2 linked regions of the Homo sapiens genome follow. Each later gene encodes a partner of the first gene's protein in a complex. Each region holds a gene or a part of one and is shown in the gene's direction. Other genes may lie near its edges. The genes, in order: MMP2 and TIMP2.

The links.
Region 2: the proteins of MMP2 (region 1) and TIMP2 are in contact, whole or in part, in a crystal structure (PDB 1GXD), measured with the Homo sapiens proteins. Residues at the interface, in NP_004521.1 of Homo sapiens: Trp574, Lys576, Asn577, Lys579, Tyr581, Phe588, Arg590, Lys595, Asp599, Phe602, Lys604, Ile606, Ala607, Asp608, Ala609, Trp610, Asn611, Ala612, Asp615, Tyr636, Leu638, Leu645, Lys646, Ser647, Val648, Lys649, Phe650, Gly651, Ser652; in NP_003246.1 of Homo sapiens: Ile162, Pro163, Cys164, Tyr165, Ile166, Pro169, Leu173, Met175, Val178, Thr179, Phe191, Arg196, Asp198, Ser200, Cys201, Ala202, Trp203, Tyr204, Arg205, Ala208, Lys211, Gln212, Glu213, Phe214, Leu215, Asp216, Glu218.

The regions. Positions count from the first base shown.
Region 1 is NC_000016.10:55,482,198-55,492,964, forward strand, and holds part of MMP2 (72 kDa type IV collagenase isoform 1 preproprotein), read left to right. Parts: intron 1-711; coding exon 712-938; intron 939-1,818; coding exon 1,819-1,967; intron 1,968-3,101; coding exon 3,102-3,230; intron 3,231-3,406; coding exon 3,407-3,580; intron 3,581-6,345; coding exon 6,346-6,519; intron 6,520-7,453; coding exon 7,454-7,627; intron 7,628-9,603; coding exon 9,604-9,759; intron 9,760-10,767.
Region 2 is NC_000017.11:78,920,462-78,932,003, reverse strand, and holds the start of TIMP2 (metalloproteinase inhibitor 2 precursor), read left to right. Parts: upstream 1-6,616; 5' UTR 6,617-6,915; coding exon 6,916-7,045; intron 7,046-11,542. UniProt on the Homo sapiens protein: Complexes with metalloproteinases (such as collagenases) and irreversibly inactivates them by binding to their catalytic zinc cofactor. Known to act on MMP-1, MMP-2, MMP-3, MMP-7, MMP-8, MMP-9, MMP-10, MMP-13, MMP-14, MMP-15, MMP-16 and MMP-19.

The DNA.
Region 1 (10,767 bases):
GCTCCCTGAACCTCTGCAGGGACCTGCTCAGTTTGGGCCTCAGTTTGGGCAGGGCCAGTTGTATGACTCATGAAGGACAGGACTACTTTCTTTTTGCAAATGGCTGATTCAGGATTTAAACCCAGGTCTGTCTACTGCCAGAGCCCATGCACATAGTCCTTGAATCTCTTTAGAAGAAAACAGGAGGAAAAAAGTCCCCAAGTCACCAGCCGCAAGGTAGATAAATGAGTTGATAGAGGTAAAGGAAGGATGCTGGAGTATAATGATTCCATATCACAGCCTCTGGAGCCAGATTGCTTTGTCCCAAATCCAGATCTACCATTTGTGAACTGTGTGATCGTAAGCAAGTTTCTTAACCTCTCTGTGCTTCAGTTTCCTCCTCTGTATAATAGGGTTAGTATATCTACATTACAGAGTTTTGAGCATTAAATGAGTTAACATATTCTGACTTTAGTGCCTGGACATATAGTCAGCACCCAGCACCAACAAGTGGTAGCCATGCTCTCTATAGCTGTATGTCCTGTCGCTCAACTAATGGGTGACCGTGCTGGTTTGGGAACCCAGTACTCCACCCAGTGCTCTGGGACCCCTGGCTTATTTCCTGTCTGGACTATGGCACTGGGTTGGGGGGCTGATTGCTACAGCCTGCTTTGGTCAGTACTGTGCCATCCTAATGTGGCTAATTGCCTTGGGGGTGTGCATTTCTTTCAGCAATACCTGAACACCTTCTATGGCTGCCCCAAGGAGAGCTGCAACCTGTTTGTGCTGAAGGACACACTAAAGAAGATGCAGAAGTTCTTTGGACTGCCCCAGACAGGTGATCTTGACCAGAATACCATCGAGACCATGCGGAAGCCACGCTGCGGCAACCCAGATGTGGCCAACTACAACTTCTTCCCTCGCAAGCCCAAGTGGGACAAGAACCAGATCACATACAGGTGCCGGGGCAGGGCTTGGGGAGGCAGGGCCATGGGGCTGAGGGACACGAGTCTCCTTGACCCATGCATTCTCTCCACTCAGGGGATCCATGAGGTGTCTTTTGTGAAGGCTTGACATCTTAGGGAGTTTCAATACACAGTTCTTAGAAAATGAAGTCAGACAGACTTGAGTTTCATACTTGCTGGCCATGAGACATTGGGTTACTTTTCAGTGCTGTGAATGTTGGCTTTCCAATCTACAAAATGGGGCTTAAAAAATGCCCTTATATGGTATGTTGGGGAACTAAGCTAGGCTGAACTAATACAAACGGCTTCTATGATTTTTGACACAGAGCAAGAGTGTAGTAATGCTAGTCATTGTTATTGTTTTTAGATGAGGTCATTGGGATGGGCAGAAGGAACGTGATGATTGGTAGCTAATTGGGTTTAGCAGCCCAATTGGGTTATAACTGGTTGCTAATTGGGCCAAGAGCTGTGCTCTGTATGGGTGGTGCTGGGTTCCAATGGTGGGATCTTTGCCCTGTGCCCCATAATGCACTACTTATGGCCCTCCCCCACCAGCCAGAAGTGACAGATGGAACTCCTGAGCTGGGGCCTAAAAATGTTGGCTGGCCTGGGACTCCCTGGGTCTTCAAGGCATTCTGGGAGGGTTGTCCTTGGCAGTGAGCCCTGCCCAGCCTACACACACATACACGCAGGCACATGCTCACATATACATACACATACCTGTGCACCCTTCCCGTGCTTGTGCATATACTTGTATGTTCACATACACACACACACTCAAACTTTTTCATACATCTGTGCACACACACATACTTGCATATACATACACTTATGCACATGCATACACACTCACATGCAGTTCTACCACCTCCAGGATCATTGGCTACACACCTGATCTGGACCCAGAGACAGTGGATGATGCCTTTGCTCGTGCCTTCCAAGTCTGGAGCGATGTGACCCCACTGCGGTTTTCTCGAATCCATGATGGAGAGGCAGACATCATGATCAACTTTGGCCGCTGGGGTAGGCAGAAGATGGGGCAGAAGAGGGGCCAGCAGGGATCAGTGTTGAGACGAGGGGGTGAGATGGACATTAGAGGGGCGTGGGGATCCTAAGGGCGGCTTAGATAGGACAGTAGATGGTGTGGGCCCTGGGGGTGGTTTAGATGGGGGCAGCACAACACGGAGTGGACACTGGAGAGCCACGTTGACATGGGGGCAGATGGTGTGTTGTGGTATAACCTGGAGGCCGTCTAAACCCGAAGCAAGTGGTCTACTGTGCTGTCCAATATGGCAGCCATTAGGCAGAATATACATGGCTGTTTAAATTTAAATTAGTTAAAAATTTTAAATTAGTTTCCTGGTCACACTGGGCACATTTTAAGTGCTCAAAAGACACAGGAGGCTAGTGACTATTGATTTTGGACAGCACAGACAAAGAATATTCCTCTTAATCACAGAAAGCTCTGTTGGATGATGCTGGTAGACACTGAGGAACTGTAGATATATGAGAGTGGTTTGGAAACAGTGGAGCAGTGTAGACACTAGAGGAAGGGTCGTAGAACCTGGGGCCAGGTGGCCATGTGAGTTTATGGTGTGAACACTGCCAGTAGCACAGACATAAAGGTATGTGGTATAGACACTGAGTGGTAAGTGATGAAGGTAAAGAGCAGGGGAAACAATGTAGACAAGTGGGTGGGTGGTACAGGCCTTGGTGACAAGGTGGGCATGAGGATTCATGTTGCAGATATTGGTGATAGTGTGACATGAAGGCAGGATTGTGGTTAAGAGGGCAGTATTGACAGGATGGAGGATGGCATAGACACTGGGGATGATGAAGATGGGGTGAGGACACTAGTGTGGTAATGTGGGTATGTGGTACATATAGTGTCATGGTGGTAGAGTAGACAATGGAGGTAGAGGGTATGGATACTGGGAGTCATGTAAACCTGGGAGAGCAGTGTAGACCATAGGATGGTAACAACCAGGTCAGCAGATCTCTACTGAGCTCCTGTTGACAGTCCTGGATAACCCCACTGGGACAAGGGAAGGGGACAGATGCTGGGTGGGCTGACAGGCTCCACATGTAGATGGGGTGTGGAGGGGTTTCAGGGTCTAGGTGGCACAGCTAGACGCTAAGACCCAGTGTGTGTTTCAGAGCATGGCGATGGATACCCCTTTGACGGTAAGGACGGACTCCTGGCTCATGCCTTCGCCCCAGGCACTGGTGTTGGGGGAGACTCCCATTTTGATGACGATGAGCTATGGACCTTGGGAGAAGGCCAAGGTGAGAAAGGGGCCCTCTGCATGCCCCAGACCTTCTCTCCTGTCCTCTCTCCACTCCATTTGCTTGGACCAGAGAGGTGGGAGGGGAGGAAAGTCACACATCTGGGTGAGTCAGAATCTTGGTCTCCAAAGAAGGCCTGGAGAAGTCCAACCTCCCCCTTCCATGTCACTCTTTAGTGGTCCGTGTGAAGTATGGGAACGCCGATGGGGAGTACTGCAAGTTCCCCTTCTTGTTCAATGGCAAGGAGTACAACAGCTGCACTGATACCGGCCGCAGCGATGGCTTCCTCTGGTGCTCCACCACCTACAACTTTGAGAAGGATGGCAAGTACGGCTTCTGTCCCCATGAAGGTGAGCATCCACTCTAGTCCCCAAGACTTTCCACCCCAAGCCTCCAGCTTCCCGGGCTCCCCAGTGTGCTCTTCCCTCCACACTCTCCAGGACTGGCTGCCACTGCCAGTTAATGAGCATCCCTCCAACGTCCTTCACTCAGTTCCCCCCCATCCTGATCTGAGCCATTGCTGTTTCTCTCCCACCAGTACCATGATGAACGTAGTACTCTAATTAAATCAAGTTGATTTTTTTTAAGTTTCACCATTAGCAATCATTTAGGAAGTCACAGATTTGATTTGCTAATTATTTATTTCTAATATATATTGGAGTGAACTTAGAACTATTACAATGCCCAGTGGTTCTCTCTAGAACCAGTCTTTACACTTCAGTCAAGATTGATACTTCAAGGGCATGAGGAAAGGCTTGCTGGTAGCTGGAAACCTAGCAGTGTGATAGGGAGGCAGGACTCAGACCAGGGCTGGACTCAACCTGGTTTGCGTACTCCAACTGAGGAATTTCAGCTATTGCTCCTGCCTTGGTCCTGATGCTGCCTCTGCTAATGCGTGTGTGTGTGTGTGTGTGTGTGCCTGTGTGTGTGTGTGTGTGTGTGTGTGTGTGTGTGTGTGTGTGTCTGGGCACGGGGGCTATACTATCTGCCTCTCTTGGGCACTGTCTTTTTCTGCCTCCTGTCTAGCTTGTGTCTGCATCTCTGTGTCTTGATAAAGACTTTAGGCTTGACTCAGTATTTGTGTTTGTGTGCTTGTCAGTGCCTGAGATGCAACATTTCAGAGATTTTGAAGCCACATGGGGGAAATCTTTTAAAATGGGGTACAGATATTGACATACACACTCAATCCTTTTTAAAAATATCCTTGACACACTTAATAGTCATAAATCACAAAAAGACAATGTAACTTCATACTCTATGAAGTCATCATATTTGATAATTCTGCAGATTGAAAGCCCAGAAAACCTGGCGAAAATGGAAAAAAGTCTAAAAATTTTTAACACTATCTTCTTTCCCATGTCACAAAGACTCTATAGTCTACATAGACTAAAGACTGTCTTTTTGTCTGTAATTTTATGTCTGTGAATCTCCCTAACCCCACTGTAACTGAAAACTAAGCACCAACCATCTTGACAGAATGAAAGAAACAAAGAGCTAGTTAATTCCCTTCCTGTTTATGCTTTTACTACCAGAGCTAAACTTTATATTAAGTAAGAGTTTAAGCCATTCACCATTAATAAGTCAGACATTTTGAAATAAAAATATTTTTTGTATCTTGCGTTTCCCGGTAGGGATTACATGTGGCGTTAACCCTTCCCTGTGTCACCCCTCTGATAGGAACAGAAAGCTTTGGTGATAGTTAGATGTGGAAACAGCTGTATTTCATAAATTTGGGAAGGGTTATTCCCTGCATTGGACATTAGCCATTTACTTTGTGCTTAGCCAGATGCAAGTACGCACAACACGCACGTGTCTGGGTCTCGAGGCAGAGATTGTTGTTACTCAGCCCCTGCTGATGGCTGAGTCAGTGTCTGATTCTTGCCATCCTTGTCAGGGGAATTTGGGAGGAGACAGGGGCTTCCTGGGTGGTAGAAATGAGAGGTCAGAGGCAGGGGGCTGGCATTGGTCGAAGTTAACGCTTTGCCTTTCTCAACTCTGAGGCCACTAAGGTATCTGGACTCAGTCTTGCCTTTTCTCTAGGTGCCATTGTTTCTGGCATTGCAGGACAAGGTCTTTTGGTAGAGAGGGGAGTGGTGAGGATACAGGGCCTCGAGTTCTGTGGTGGGAGGCCAGGGACTGGGCTCCATTCCGGCCATGGTGGAGTTAACGGGGGCTGGTGAGGTCACCTCTGGCGCCGTTGTGCACAGATGGTCCTTGTTATGGACTTGTGGTTTTGCTGGTTGGCAATTCCAGAGACACCATTTTTTAGCTTTGGGTGGATGAGGGGAGGATGGGGAGAATCCAAGACAGACAGGCCAGGCTCTGAACCCCACTCCCTCCCCCAACTCTCCATTTATGGCCCCTGTCTTGAAGATGTCAAAGTAGGAGCCCAGAGTGTTTAGTAAAAGGGACCTGAAGGCACCACCTCCCTCTCCCTCCCTCCTCCTCTTCATTCTTTCTCTCCTTCCTACAGAGACTGCAACAAGGCCATCCAGGAAGGGGCCTGGGGTTGACAGGAGGTAAAGCAAGCTTTCTGTGTATGCGTGTGCACGCACACACACATATATGAGAGTGACAGACTAAGCAAGAGAGATTGAGATTAGTGTGTTTTGTAGTTTTTAGTTACAACCTTCATTCACTTCTTTCATTTCTGTGACCATGAGCAGTTTGAGAACCATCTTTGTCCTAGCCTTGATTTCTCCACCTATCAAATGGAGAGAGATTCTCGTGGTCCTGCCTGCCATGACTGATATATTCATGTCATACATCATTATTACATGAAATTTGCATGGTACAGGTGTGGACCAGGCAGAATGGACAGTGCCCTTGGGGCTGAGGCAGGGTTCTAGAAGCCCTTGCTGTGTGCCAGGTGTCAATCATTTTGTTGTTGGGTGGTCCACAAGGTCCCACGGGAGGGATTGGGATAACCAGGGAAGCAGGGGTTCTCTCTGGGAGCTCAGAGAAGCAGCTCCTTACCAACCAGTAGAGATGTTTTCTTAATATTTTAACAATGCATCAACTTCACTGGTGTGAACCGGCAGGTGGGCAGCCAGCCAGCCCTGTGCCCATGGAAGCATGTCTCATTCACATCCTTCCCTCTCTCCCCCACCCTTAGCCCTGTTCACCATGGGCGGCAACGCTGAAGGACAGCCCTGCAAGTTTCCATTCCGCTTCCAGGGCACATCCTATGACAGCTGCACCACTGAGGGCCGCACGGATGGCTACCGCTGGTGCGGCACCACTGAGGACTACGACCGCGACAAGAAGTATGGCTTCTGCCCTGAGACCGGTGGGTGCCACTCCCTCTCCCTCCCTCAGGGCCCAGCACCTGCTGTCTGACAAAAAAAAAACCCATAAGACTCCGAGTGCCCACCTCCTTTCCCCAAGACAGGGGTGCTAAGACATCTGTGCGAATGACATCCACACCAAGATGTCCGTGTAGCTAGTCAGGATACTTGTCACCTGGTATGGCCTGGGCACTGAAATCAGAACAGACATTGGGCATCAACAGTTGAATTGGTGACACTTAAATGTCAGGCCTGCTCAGGATCCTCTGACCGACCTGCATCCCTTTTCTCTCAGGCTCTCTGGCAGAGACTTCTCTCTCCTCCTCTCTGACCCTGCAATCTCTCTTCCCTGCCTTTCCTGGTCTGTATCTCCACCTTTTAGTCTGTTTTTTATTAAGAGCTCCGTGCTTTCCTCCCTGTCTCCTTCCTGCCCTCCTCTCTATCCCTCCCTCCTTTCCTTCTTCCCTTCCTCCAACAGGAATTTACTGAGCGCCTGCTTTGTGCAGCATACACAGAGGTTGGTCTCTGCAAAGCCCTGCCCAAGGGGGCTCACAGCTGAGGGGCATGTGCTGGTGCCATCAGCTTCATCCAACTCCCTTTGCCCCTAGCCCATCTGCCCCCTTCCATGGGAGGCTCATTAGAACTCTGGAATCTGGCTTCCTGGGTTTGAATTGCAGCTCTGATACTTCCTAGCAGTGTTGGCTTAGGGAAATTTCATCATCTCTCTGATCTATTTCCCATCCATGAAACGCGGTGCTATTCAGTCCCTCCTGCACAAGGCTGTTGTCAGGGGTGGGTGAGATGAGTCTAAAGATACAGTGCCTGGGACTGAGTCTAACTTAGGTGTGGTTCATTAAGGTCAGCGTCATGTCATTGCTTCCTGGTGGTAGCCTCAGACTCTTTGCTGCGCCTTGACCCGTATCCCTAACCCCACAGCCATGTCCACTGTTGGTGGGAACTCAGAAGGTGCCCCCTGTGTCTTCCCCTTCACTTTCCTGGGCAACAAATATGAGAGCTGCACCAGCGCCGGCCGCAGTGACGGAAAGATGTGGTGTGCGACCACAGCCAACTACGATGATGACCGCAAGTGGGGCTTCTGCCCTGACCAAGGTACGAGGCCCTGGTCATTGGACAGAGACCCTGGACATTGCCCTTGCCCCTAAACTTGCTCCAAAAACCTTCCTGAGACCTCACCCACTTCAAGCATAGACACTGCCCCCCAGACACCCACCTACCCAGACCCGCCCACCTGGGCTGAGACAATGCCCATCTCTGGTGGAGCCAAGGTCCCTGCTTAGATCCTGCCCATCCAGGTGGAGGCACAGCCTCCAAAATCAGACCCTGGTAGACCAGATGCTGCTACTCACCTCCTGGGTAAGAACTGGCCTTCCTGAGGGGTCACTGCTCTTGTCTTCCCCTTCAGCCACCCTCCAGGCGGGCTTGTGACTACCAAAATTGGCTGAATTCTGAGCACAGATTACCAGAGAGACAATTCTCCTAAGAGACATTCCCACTGCACAAAGAGGTGCCTTCAAGGAGCTGGTAGGCAGTAGAAGAAAGGAAAAAAGGAAGAGCCTCATGCTTGATCTGACACCATGGTCCACGCAGCCCTGGGGGAGCCCCCAGAGCCCTCTCTCCCCCATCAGTCAGCACCATCTGTTACCAGGGTGTAAATGGTGGGTCCTCGTCAGTCCTGGGTGCTGAGGATGGAGCTGACTGGGACAGCTCTCTGCCCCCTAGGACTCACAAGCTCAGGGGAGAGAGTGACCAGGAGACAGCTTGTGACCTTACTATGTGCTCAGTGCAGTGAGCAGGGTGCTTGGGGCCCTGTGCCCAATCTAGGCTACAGAGCCCAGGGTTGCAGGGTTGCTTAAAGCTCCCTGATGGCCCATAATGGCCAGGTCAGTGGGCAGGTCCAGGGCCTGTCAGAATTAGGCAAGCCTGTCTTTATGTTGCTTTCATTCTTTTTAATCATCATGAGATGGAACTTGGCAGATGTCAGTGGACAGAGGCTGGCCAAAGGAGGTTTTCTTATCCCCTGCTAAATTCCTTGCTAGGACACAGTCTGATTTTACCAGCTTAAAGGTGGGATTCTCCACCTTCCTGAGTGGTTCAAGTATCCAGAGCTCAGTGGCTCACCCAGGGTGAATATTATAGTCTCCTGGGGCTGCCATGACAAAGTGCCACAAACTGATGGCTTGAAACAAACCCCATGTATTCTTTCATGCTTCTGGAGGCTGGAAGTCTAAAATCACGGCGTCAGTAAGGCCATGTTCCCTCTGAAGGATGCGTCACTCCAGTCTATGCCTCTGTCATGACATGGATGGCCTTCTTCCCCCTCTGCTTGCCTCTCCTCCTTTTTTTTTTTTTTGAGACGGAGTCTTGCTCTTGCCCAGCTGGAGTGCAGTGGCATGATCTCGGCTCACTGCAACCTCTGCCTCCTGGGTTCAAGTGATTCTCCTGCCTATTTCCAAATAAGTTCACATTCACAGGTCCCTAGGGTTAAGACTTGGGCAAATCTTTTCTGGGGGGACGCATTTAACCACAACAGGGTGTGACACAGGTTTTGCTCGCTGGCTGTGGCTCAGCCTGTGCAACCACGCTAAGTGTGAAAGGTTTTTACTGCTTTCACCTGGGCAGAAATGGTGGCAACATGGGGCCAGCCTATCCCCACTCTTCTTACCTCTTCAGAGAGGCTGAGGAGCTGGGTTTGTAGAGCTCATCTTTTATAGAGAGACATAAAAAGCCAGGAAGCAGGATTTTAAAATGAATGGGGTTTTAAGTAGAAAATTCGCAGATACTACTTGTTCTGTTCCTTTATAGCACACCTGTCCTGATACTGACTTGGAAAGAGACAAGAAGACTTTGGCTGACCCCACTTGGAAACAATAGGCACTAATCCCAAAATTGTGTATTGATCCCAGAATTCTCAGGAAAAGAAAAAAAAAATCAATACATGCCGCTTCCAGGGTTCTCAGCCTTACTGTGGGGCTGTCCTCAAAAGTCTGCATCACTGGGTCAGGTCTTGACTTCTCTCTCATCTCTCTTCCTGTCTTTCAACCCTCTCTCCTCCCTGCAACCCTCAGGGTACAGCCTGTTCCTCGTGGCAGCCCACGAGTTTGGCCACGCCATGGGGCTGGAGCACTCCCAAGACCCTGGGGCCCTGATGGCACCCATTTACACCTACACCAAGAACTTCCGTCTGTCCCAGGATGACATCAAGGGCATTCAGGAGCTCTATGGTAAACCTCCGGGCGGGGGTTGGGGGTGGAGGGTGAGGAGGGGGGAGGTCATGTAGCCTGGGATGGAGGCCCAGGGGGTGGGACCAGCAAGATCTCATCCAGCCAGGAGTGCTGGAGACGAGGGCAGGAAATGGGAGTGTTGACCTGGTCTTGGGAAGGCAGAGCAGCTCTCCAAGGGGATACTTGGATAACTCTTCCCTATCCGAACAATGCTAATATCCATGTCACTCTTAGCGCTCCATTTCTGGGTTTCTCCCATTTTCTAGGTGAGTAAGGTCACCTGGTGCAAGGTTACACAGGTTTGAGCAACCCAGTGGAGTTTAGAATCCAGGAGAATAGCCAAGTACAGGACAGAATTTTCCATCATGTGGAATGACCTTAACAATACGGGGGTGGAAGTTTCTAGTTTTCATAATAAGCTTTGATTTTTAGTATGTAGTAGAAACAGAACAACCAGTGCCTTAAGCCAATTATTTATTTATTTATTTATTTATTTATTTATTTATTTATTTATTTATTGTTGGTTCTTACAGTGAGGCTAGAGTTTAAAAAGTCAGTTCATTTTTAAAAAATATTTAATGGTCCAGGTGATATCTGAGCCAGGCCAAAATAGTGAAAGTGGTGCTTGAGTGATGAAGTTTGGGGACTGCTAGACTCAGGAAAAAGCCCAAGGTCTGCCGTGAGGGGTGCTGGGTTCAAATGTGGCCTCTGCCCTTCACTAGCTGCAAGATATTGTGTAAGTCTTTATACCTCTTTGGACTCAGTTTCCTCATCTCTAAAATAATTGCTTATCATGAAAAGTGCCATACTGTCAGTTCTGGACACACCAGCGGCCCCCTGACCGCCCTGACTCTTGTGGGCATAAGAATCTGAGCTTTGGGTTTGAATCCTTGGGCAAGTCACTCAACTTTTCTGGGCCTCAGTTTCCTCACCTGTGAAATGGTGCAATCATGATACCCCACTCCCAGGGCTATAGAGAGGACTGATTTGGGTGATGTCAGTAAAAAG
Region 2 (11,542 bases), on another chromosome or scaffold:
TGCCCAGCTAATTTTTTGTATTTTTAGTAGAGACAGGATTTCGCTATGTTGGCCAGGCTGCTCTGGAACTCCTGGCCTCAAGTGATCCAGCTTCCTTGGCCTCCCAAAGTGCTGGGATTACAGGCATGAGCCACTGCACCTGGCCTTGACCACCTAATTTCTTTAATTCTTTGTCGAGATGGGGTCTCACTGTGTTGCCCAGGCTGGTCTCAAACTCCTGGTGTCAGGTGATCCTCCTGCCTCAGCCTCCCAAAGTTCTGAGATTACAGGTGCAAGACACTGTGTCCATACCATGGACACTTATAAAAAATCTTTTTCGGCCAGGTGCGGTGGCTCATGCCTGTAAGCCCAGCATTTAGGGAGGCCGAGGCAGGCAGATCACTTGAGGTAGGAGTTCGAGATCAGCCCAACCAGCATGGTAAAACCCCGTCACCACTAAAAACACAAAAATTAGCCGGGCGTGGTGGTGGGAACCTCTAATACCAGCTACTTGGAAGGCGAGGCAGGAGAATTGCTTGAACCCGGGAGGTGGAGGTTGCAGTGAGCTAAGATTGTGCCACTGTACTCCAGCTTAGGCGACAGAGCGAGACTCTGTCTCAAAAAAGAAAAAAAAAATTCTATTCTGTGCCTGGCCTCTCTCCCCTGACAATCGGTGTCGGCAGCATGGTGCATGTCTTGGTCTCCAGGCTGTGGGGACCTTCACTCTCCCATCTGCATTCTTGTTCTCTATAGAACCTGTTTGTTCCTATGTCTCTGCACCTTGCTTTGCTCAGGACCAAAGACTTTTATTGGTTTGTTAGTGGTTTCCAACCAGGACCGTTTTGCAATGTCTTGAGACATTTTTGATGGTTGCAATTGGAGAGGGTGCTGGCATCCAGTGGGTCCGGCCAGGGATGGTGCTGAACACCCTACAGTGCCCATGACAGCCCCCCACAAAGAGGGATCTGGCCCAAATGTCAACTGTGCCAAGGCGGAGAAGCCCGGCCCCTAAAGAAGATGGCTAATGAAATCCATGTTGAAATGCCCTTCAGCACGTCCACCATAGAACACGATGAGCCGCTCATGCTGCCTGTGTATCTTGTCTCAAGCACAGTGGGTCCCAGTCACTCTATTTTTTTTTTTTGAGATTGAGTCTTGCTCTGTTGACCAGGCTGGAGTGCAGTGGCAGGATCTTGGCTCACTGCAACCTCTGCCTCCCTGGTTCAAGTGAATTCCGGCTAATTTTTATATTTTTAGTAAAGATGGGGTGTCACCATGTTGGCCAGGCTGGTCTCAAACTCCTGACCTCAAGTGATCTGCCCACCTCGGCCTCCCAAAGTGTTAGGATTACAGGCGTGAGCCACCACGCCCAGCCATCACTCTTGACTCACCTTCTTGTCATCTTCAGGATGTCCTGTGGTGAACAGCCCCACCAGTGGATGTTGGGGACGGACACGTGGGCTGGGTGCCCATTGTGACCAAGAGTCTGAGACCCGGCTGGATGGGGAGGCACAGATGGGCTGCCTGCCCATCCAGCCGGGCCTCAGACTCTTGACAGCCACGTGTCACCTGACTGAAGTGTCACCTCCCAGACAGCCAGACTCAGACACGGTCCCCACCTTCCTCTACAGCTGCCGGCTCCCTGCCCCTGAGACTGCCCTGGACACTCCCCTGAGGGCCGGAGTTCCAGCCATCGGCAGGGGGTCAATTTCCCGGGTGTGTGGGGCCAACGTCCATGCTGTCTCTGGATGAGAACATCTGGCTCTCTAGGAACCTGCCAGAAAGAACGTGGGGGCTTCGGGTCCGTTCAAGCTGTCTCCACAGAGAGAACGTGACCTGCTCAGGGGAAGATGGCTCTCATCCAGACTGGGAGGGCGAGGCCACCGAGAAGAGCAGCATCCTCCCGCCAGCCCGGCGCAGCAGGGAGGGCGTCCTGCCTGGTGGCCTGAGACGGGAGCGACAGGGAGGAGGCCTTGGCACTTCCTCCGGCCCCGGACAGGATTCATCAGGTCCAGCCTGGGAGGTGTTCGCCTGGTGTGTTCAGGCGAGGGTGCACACACGCCTGACAGCTCTGCTGTGCTCTCTGCCAGGAAGGTCTCTTTGAGGGGGTGGGGGAGCAAGACGATGTTCCTCGTGGGAAGCGGTGGCCCCTGGAGCGTGGTCTGAGGGCCCTGAAATCACCCCCATACTTCACAGGGCTCCCTCGTGCTCCTGTCTGTCCTGAGAGGCTGAGAGCCTCTGCTCTTAAGCTGATCCAAGCCAGGGTCCCCCAGGCTGCATCTGGGCTGGGTGTCGCTTATGGTCCCTATGGTAGTCCACCCACCAATATCAAGATGAGAAGTGAAGGGGGCTGGTTAGGAGTGAAGCCATGGGTTGGGCGCGGTGGCTCACGCCTGTAATCCCAGCACTGTGGGAGGCCGAGGCGGGCGGATCACCTGAGCTCAGGAGTTCCAGACCAGCCTGGGCAACATGGTGAAACCCTGTCTCTACTTAAAATACAAAAATTAGCCGGGTGTGATGGTGGGCACCTGTAATCCCAGCTACTCAGGAGGCTGAGACATGAGAATTGCTTGAGCTCAGGAGGCAGAGGTTGCAGTGAGCCGAGATGGTGCCATTGCACTCCAGCGGGAGACAGAGTAAAACTCTGTCTCAAAAAAAAAGCAGTGAAGCAGTGGAGGGAGCTCCCAGCCCGGGGTCTGCCTTCCTCCTTCCTCTCTTGCCCTGGGCATGGGGCATGCGGACCCTGTCACTTCCCTTATGGGTGGCAGCCCCCTCCCCATGTTCAAGTTTGCTTGCAAGGTCAAGCCCTCTTGGCCACAAAGCACAGAGAAGGACAAGGAGAAGGAGCAGCTTGCAGAAGCTGTGTCTCTACAAAAAATACAAAAAATAGCCAGGTGTGGTGGCGCATACCTGTGGTCCCAGCTACAAAGGAGGCTGAGGTGGGAGGATCACTGGAGCCCGGGAGGCAGAGGTTGCAGTGAGCTGAGATCAAGCCACTGCACTCCAGGCTGGGTGACAGAGTGAGACCCCGGCTCTCAAACAAAGAAAAAAAAGAAAAAAGAAAGAAAAAGTGGGTTTGTGCTGCCATGAGCCAGATTCCAGTCTACTCCCTGTCTTCAGTAGGTTCCTGGTCTGAGGCCTCAGTTTCCTTGATTTTGAAGTGTGAGGACCCTAACTGGAAGAGAAGGTGGAGGGTGGTTAATGAGACAGAAGCTGGCTCAGGAGCCAAGACCCTGAGGGCCCCAAGCAGCAGGGAGATGACTGGGTCAGCAAGCTGGGGGCTGTGGGCTGCGAGGGAGGCCTGGCTGCTGGGACTGTCCTCTCCCCTCCCTGCTGTGCCCTTGGGAGAGTCATTTGGGCCCTCAGACCTCAGTCCCCTCTTCATCTGACTTTGCAGCCGCAGGTCAGCCATTCACGGCACTGCACCAGAAAGGGGTTTTGTGACTCTGGAGTCTCTGCATCTCCAGCACCTGCCCTTTCACTGGGCTCCCTGCCCCCACCCAGGCCACCCACCAGAGTCCCATCCTTCCAGGGGATGCGTCCGATCCTGCCCCTCTGCTCAGAACCCTCCAAAGGCTCCCACCTCACTCAGAACAAAATGCACATCCTCCCGGTAGCCTGGCTGCCCTCCGCCGTGTCCCCTCCCAGCCCCTGCTCCTGGCCTCCTGCCTCAGCCCTCCTTCCTCTCACTCCTCGCCACACCATGGGCTCCACCAGGTCCAGCATCGTCCAACCTTGGGGCCTTGCGTGTTTCCACCTGCTGTTCCAGGGATGTTCCTCTGTTCTGTAGACGCTGAATGTCTCACTCTTAGGACGGTGTCCAGGCTACAGCAGATACTCAAATGAGTATTTGTTGATGGATGGAGGGAGGAGGGAGAGAGAGAGAACCAAGAGAAAAGGGAGGAAAAGAAAGCTGGAAACTTCTGGTTTAGAGACCTGTTTGGAGGAGATAATGGTAGAGGGAACAGAAAAGTAGAGTACTCTCTGGTGGGGGAATTGAGGGGAGAGATTTTTTTTTTTTTTTTTGAGACAGGGTCTCACTCTGTCACCAAGGCTGGAGTGCAGTGGTGTGATCTCGGCTCACTGCAGACTCAACTTCCCCAGGCTCAAGCGATCCTCCCACCGCAGCTTCCCTGTAGCTGGGACTACAAGTGTGAGCCATCACGCCCAGCTAATTTTTTTTTTGTAGAGATGGGGTCTCAGTATGTTCCTCAGGCTGGTCTCAAACTCCTGGCCTCAAGTGATCCTCCCACCTTAGTTTCCCAAAGTGTTGGGATTACAAGCGTGAGCCACTGCACCTGGCAAGATTTCTGCTTCACTTTTCCTGGGAGCAATTCCAGCCTGTTTGTGTGCTGGTGGGGATGACTTCGGGGAGGGCAGTCCAGGATACAGGTGCGAGGCCTTGGGTTGGAAGTTCCAGTCTCACGCCCCCCAACCCTGGAGCCCAGGCCCCCCTTTCCTCCCAGGTACATCCCACATTGGCCCCACCCCCTTGGCTGTCAGCACCACAACTGCTCTAAGGTATTTATCACCCTAACATGTACCTGATCACTTATATGTAGAGCTTGTCTAAAAGACCGAGAGCCCCTATGCTACCTGTTTCTATCATGAACTGACAAATTGAAACACAAGTTCAACAGCATTTTGTTCCCCCTGTAACCAAAAAGAAGGAAAGAAAACGATGAAATGGCTGAAGGCAGCCAGCACATAACAATTTTCTGAATTAACTGTACTTTTAAACGTTAGCTTCAAACATCATTTTGTGAACGACCCAACTCTATTTCACGCTAACAAAAACCAAAAAAGTGACTTTGGATTTGTCAGGGTGCTAAAAATAACGGCATTGCTTATTTAACTTTTCTCAGAACTGTCTGTTACAAAACATACACAAACAGAAAGAAGCTGTTTTTCCATTCTTTCACTATTTTCCAAAGTTTCATACCTCAAGTCAGCACCGCACAATTTAGTGGGCAATTCTTTTTAAAAAAAAAAAAAAAAAAAACAAAAAAAAACAAGAGTCTTTCTCTGTCGCCCAGGCTGGAGTGCAGTGGCGCAATCTCGGCTCACTGCAACCTCCGCCTCTCGGGTTCAAGCGATTCTCCTGCCTCAGCCTCCTGAGTAGCTGGGACTACAGGCGCGCGCCACCACGCCCGGCTAATTTCTTGTGTTTTTAATAGAGACGGGGTTTCACCGTGTTAGCCGCCAGGCTGGTCTCGAACTCCTGACCTCGTGATTCGCCCACCTCAGCCTCCCAAAGTGCTGGGATTACAGGCATGAGCCACTGCACCCGGGCTTTTTTTTTTTTTTTTTTTCTTTTGAGATGGAGTCTCGCTCTGTCCCCCAGGCTGGAGTGCAGTGGCATGATCTCGGCTCACTGCAAGCTCCGCCTCCTGGGTTCATGCCATTCTCCTGCCTCAGCCTCCCGAGTAGCTGGGACTACAGGCGCCCACCACCAAGCCCGGCTAATTTTTTGTATTTTTAGTAGAGACGGGGTTTCACTGTCTCTACTAAATGCTAGCCAGGCTGGTCTCAAACTCCTGGCCTCAAGTGATCCTCCTGTCTCGGCCTCCCAAAGTGCTGGGATTACAGGCGCAAGCCACCGTGCCCGCCCTGATTCTTCCTGTGTCATTTTCCTGGGCTTCCCTCTCCCTAGCTGGACTGCAAACACTCTGGAATGCTGACCTGAGGGCTGGAGTGCTGACCTGAGTGCAGCAGTGTCCATGGAGCCCCACGGGGCACACACCAAATGTACAGGGTGGGTGCCCACAGCCGGGCACAGGCAGGTTCACAGCCAGGAAGCCCGCCTCACCACCCTACACATGTTCATCCCTTCATATGCCTGGGTCTTTCCTGGAACACAAAACTGTTTTGGGAAAAGTCCTTCGGCTCCCACATTTGTGGACTAAGAGAGGAAACTGTGAGCGGAACCCAGCCAATGCCTCTGCTGCGATCCTACTGGCTCCTGGGCGCCTGGGCCCACCCCCGTCTCTTGTTGGCTGGTCAAAAATATGGCCAGTTTATATAAAATCCTGTTTTGTTCACAGTAACCACACCCCCCACCCCCCAACTAAACTGGCCAGGCGCACTTAAAATTCTAAGGCCTCCATTTGAAAAAGGGATCCTGTCAGTTTCTCAATAGGCCACCCGCCCACAGAAACGGGGAGGTGGCGACAGGGAACGGCCCCTGCTCCAAAGGACACCCCTTGGCTCGCCCCGAGGCTGGGCTCGAAGGGACCCCGGGGTGGCGGGGGACGGAGCAGCGTAGCCCTCCAGAGTCGAGCTGAAGGGGAAAGGGTAGCGGGTGGGTCGCCTGGTGTCCTGGAAGAACGGGGCGCGAGTCCCCCGCGCTGAGTCAGGGACCCCGGGCGCAGAAGGCCACGCAGCGGGGACCGGGGTCGGGGGGCTGGGGGCGTCCGGGGACCCCCGCGCGGGTGCGGGTCGCGGGCGCCAGGTGGTGCGGGAAGCCCCCGACGTGCCAGGCCGGGCACAACAAAAGCGCGGGCTGGGGGGAGGCGCGGGCGGAGGGGGAGGAGGGGGCTGCTGGGAGCGCCCAGAGCCTGCATTGGCCGCCAGCCACCGGGAGGAGGAGCAGAAAATCCTCCGAGCGCAATAAAACTGCGGCCCGGCCCAAGCCCGCAGCAAACACATCCGTAGAAGGCAGCGCGGCCGCCGAGAACCGCAGCGCCGCTCGCCCGCCGCCCCCCACCCCGCCGCCCCGCCCGGCGAATTGCGCCCCGCGCCCCTCCCCTCGCGCCCCCGAGACAAAGAGGAGAGAAAGTTTGCGCGGCCGAGCGGGGCAGGTGAGGAGGGTGAGCCGCGCGGGAGGGGCCCGCCTCGGCCCCGGCTCAGCCCCCGCCCGCGCCCCCAGCCCGCCGCCGCGAGCAGCGCCCGGACCCCCCAGCGGCGGCCCCCGCCCGCCCAGCCCCCCGGCCCGCCATGGGCGCCGCGGCCCGCACCCTGCGGCTGGCGCTCGGCCTCCTGCTGCTGGCGACGCTGCTTCGCCCGGCCGACGCCTGCAGCTGCTCCCCGGTGCACCCGCAACAGGCGTTTTGCAATGCAGATGTAGGTAAGGAGCGGCGACCCCAGCCCCCGCGCGGGGCCCCACCTCCCCCGCGACCCCGAGGGTTCGCAGACGCCCCGCCCGCCCGCCGCTGGCCGAGGGACCCCAGCGCCCGCCTCCTGGTCCCTCGGCGCCTTCTCGAATCCTGCAAGTGGACGCCCAGAGCCGACTTTCTTTCCCCCCTCCCTCCTCTCCCTTTCTTTCCCTCTCTTTGCCGAGATGCGTCTCAACCTCAAAATTCCACCGAAATTCCGCCGCAGCTCCAGCCCCAGGAAAGGGAGCCAGTTTGGCTTTTGGCAGGCGGCGCGCCCTGGGATGCCAGCGCTGGGGGCGGGGAGCGTGGGGGACACGGCGTGGGGGCGGGGGGCTGGAGGACTGGGGACCCCAGGAAGAAACTTTCGCAGATAAGGTGGGAGTTGGGCTTCTCTGGGCTTGGGGCTGGGTGGGGAAGGGCTTCTCTGCTGGGGCTTCTCCCACCAGCCCCATTTGGGGGCTCCCCGATCAAGCCAGGGTGGGATGGAAGCCCGCCCTACCCGAGGCAGGTTCCACAGGCCCAGAGGGGCAGGTGAAAAAGCCGGTGGCGTCTCCTGGCGTGGCTCCTTGCTTGCGCCCTGCCCAGGAGGCCCTGCAAACTGGCTGGGCAGGGACCGGGACCCCCGAATGTTCCGCTTTTTCGGGACGTCCACAAAAGCTGGAGACTTTGGTGACCGGACCCGGCACGTGGGACTGTGCTGCTGCTCAGATTCCCCAGCAAATACCCATGACCTCCGGACTCCTAGCCCCCAAAAGACAGGCGCCATGGAGGGAGGCAGGAGGGGCCCAGTTATTTGTTCTGATCCATGGAGGGGGAGGACCAGCAGAAATGGGAGGAACCCGCTGGCTCGAAGTTTCCACCCTGGTCCTGCACCTCAAGCCTCTGCAGCCCTGGTGCTGGTCAGCATGGTTTTCCTGGGGCAAGTCTGGCTACACGGCAGGTGGTCTCGGAGCCCCCTGCCCTCCTTCCTTCTTATGTCTGAGTCTCAGTCGAGTGACCTGTCCAGGGCAGATGGAGCAAGGCGGGGGCCCCCTCACCTGCCCAGAGTGGAGGTGGGACTTTCTGTTTCTCCTGCTGTCAGCCACGCCCTTCCCATACCCCGCCCACGGCTTCTTGCCCCACCCCGGTTAGCCCTAGGAGCTGCGTGCCCAGCTGGGGAAGTTTTCAGTTGCACCAATCTATTGAGATCACAGGTCTCAGGTGGCTCAGGCCACCTGGGCGGAAGGCTTGGTGTGTGCCTGTGTCAGTTTCCACAAAACCCAGTTTGGGGGAAATGAGGTCTTTTCTCCAGTTTAGCCTTGGTGCTCAGCAAGATTTGTGGGTGAAGGAGAGGTTCCTTTGATGAGGGAGCCATAATGGGCCTTTCTCTGGGGGTCCACGAGGAGTGCAGGCCTGTCCAGGCTCCTTGGCTCACCAGCACGTGCTGGGGCAGGATGTAGCCAAGGCCCAGAAGGAGGCTGTGGATAAAAGGACCTGGGAGTTGGATTTGTAGGAGTTGGGCCTTGGGACCCCTCCCCCTCCCGCCCCCCCCCCCACCCCGCCCCACACACACACTCCTCAGCTGTGTGGGAGAATGTCCAGGCAGCCACTCTGTCCTTGCTTGGCATAAGTTAAGGCGGCCACTGAGCTGGGAGCTGTTTCTGCGTGGGGTGTGGATCCAGGATGGCAGAGGGTGGAGGGCTGCAGTGCGTGCCTCCCGCCTCCTTCATGCTCAGCGCAGCACTCTCCTCTTCTGGGTTGCCTGGCATTTGTGTCTAAATCTTTGCATCAAAATCATCCTGTAGCTAAAACTTTTCACCCCATCCCGGCTCAGAGGCCCAGTCAGATGCCAGAGTTGCACTGCAGAGCTCAGGGCATTCGCTTCCTGTGGCCGCTGTGACAAACTACCACAAATGGGAGGGCTTAAAAGAACAGGAATCGATTCTCTGTAGCTCAGGAGGCCAGAAGTCTGAAAAGGTGTCCACAGAGCCAGTTCCTTCTGGGGGCTGTGAGGGAGAATCTCTTCCAGGCCTCTCTCCTTGATGTTGCTTGGTTCCATTTTCAAGGAACACATCACTTCCATTTCCGCCTGTCTTCACATGGCCTTCTCTCGTGTGTCTCTGTGTCCAAATTTCCCTGTTCTTTTTTTTTGGAGAGCAGGCTGGAGTGCAATGGCGCAATCTCGGCTCGCTGCAGCCTCCGCCTCCTGGGTTCGAGCAATTCTCCTGCCTCAGCCTCCCAAGTAGCTGGGGTTACAGGCACCTGCCACCACACCCGGCTAATTTTTTGTATTTTTAGTAGAGACAGGAATTCGCCATGTTGGCCAGGCTGGTCTCGAACTCCTGGCCTCAGGTGATCCGCCTGCCTCAGCCTCCCAAAGTGCTGGGATTATAGGCGTGAGCCACCGCGCCCGGCCAAATTGCCCTGTTCTTCTAAGGACAGCAGCCATTGGATTTAGGGCCCACCCTAATCCAGTATGACTTCATCTTGATAGATCAACAAATACTCTATTTCCAAATAAGGTCATATTCATAGGATCTGACTAGATGTGCATTTGAGGGGGGACGTAATTCAGCCCATACACCAGGCTGCCTTCTCTTATTCCCAGTCACCCTTTCCGTGCTCAACCAACTTGGGATAAACAACCCAGGACATCCCAGGGTAGGGTCCCGGAACAAATCCCACAGGGACGACAGCGGCCTGTCTATTCTCCAGTGTTCGATTCTCCTCGAAGCGATGCAGGTTTGTGACTTTCTCAGCAATGGTTCCCCATTCTGGCTCAGAGCAGAATTGCCTGGAAGATTCTTAAAGATTGCTCAGGTCTAGGTCCCTTTGCAGATACAGAGGGTCTTGCTCAGACTTCGGCTTTTGCAGTTTTAAAAGGCCCACAGGTGATTTAACCAGGGCTGTGACCCAGGGGTCTCAGAAAGGGGGTACAGTGGAGGTTAATAAAGGCTGGCTTGTTATGTGGCAAGCTGGCTCCTTTTACTCTTGGCTGCATGCAGCCTTGTTAAATGGCTTGGTGTCTACAAGAGGCAATTGGCTTAAGAAACAGTCAGATTTCTGTCTGCCCGGCTGAGGATTTCTGGGAGGTATCTCCCTAGCAGCTCTTGCAGTTGGTAGGACCGGAACTGTGGTCGGCAAAGATAATTCATGATGAGGTGGTGATGTTTAGGATAAGGGATGGTAAGAGGTGACCTGATTTCTTCCTGGAAGGCCCCAGGTCCTTGTCCTTTCCAGCAAGGCCAGCACAAACGGGAAGCATTTTGTGTCTCAGTTACAGTACTGTTCAAATGCGCTGCTGGCCCGGCTCCCTCTCACCCAGTGAAATCCTTCACATCTACTGCCAGCCTGCACAGCTACAGGGATCTGGCTGGAAATTAGCTTTGGGCTCACCATTCAGGCAGTCCCATGCCTGGAGCCACTTAGCCAGCTGAGCTACTTGGCAGACTCGGGCTGCTTGGGCCCGTTTCTGGACTCAAGGGTAAAGCCAGGAGCTCTCTGGATGCAGAGAATAAAACCTCTCCTCTGGCTTGGGTGGCAGTACCTAAGGCCACACATTATCCTAGAAGACCTCTGCGATGACATCTTCCTCACATGTTCCCACCTCCAGAAACTGTCCTCTGCAAATCCCCCGAGGAGCTCCAGCTCCAGCTAGAGAGGGGTCCACAACCAAGAGGGGGAACAACTGCTATTTTCTGGGGTGAACAGCCAAGGGTGACCTGGTTCCTGGGGGACACAGTGACAGGGACCAGACAGATAGTAGGGGCCACCCCAGAAAACACACAGCACGCAGTCAAAAATGGCTCTGTCTTCAGGACACGTGCTCAGGAAAAGCAACACAGCATCAGATTCATGTGAGCTGGGTCAGGCCTTCCATGCGAGGGGGCGGCGTGGCGCTTTTTAAAGAAACTGTTGGCAACTCGTTGTGCGAAGTATGTGATCGATCTGTATTGTCAGTTTTGTTCATCTTGATTTTCATATTGGGCTTGTCTGTGTTTCAACAAGCAATTATGGAGTGGCTGCCTCTGCCCCCGGGGATGTAAGGGAGAAGCAAGACATTGTCCCTGTGGTGGGGGATGCAGGGGGTGGTACATCTTGGCACCAGGCGGTGTGGAAGGGGGTTCCTGCTGCCCGGCGTGGTGAGCAGGCCTCCCCTCCTCAACTGCCCAGGTGTGGTATAAAGTCAGTCCACTCAGTGTGGTTTCGGTAAATAATTAACAACAGATAAACTTTCGAAATAACCAAAATTCAGGAGTAATCATGTGACAATGTGAAATGCATTTGCAAGATGTGAGGATAGAAGGCCCCATGGTAGGTTGAGGAGGGAGCTGTGGGGAGAACTGAGGCTCTTCGGCTTGGTTTTGAACAGCGTCCTTGGAGGGACAGGATCTGTCAGGGGAGTCACTGACCCCTGAATTACTGGCAGCTCCCAAGGCAGGGGGACTGGAAGAGCAGGGAGAGCTGTGCACAGCCTGGAGGTATGGCAG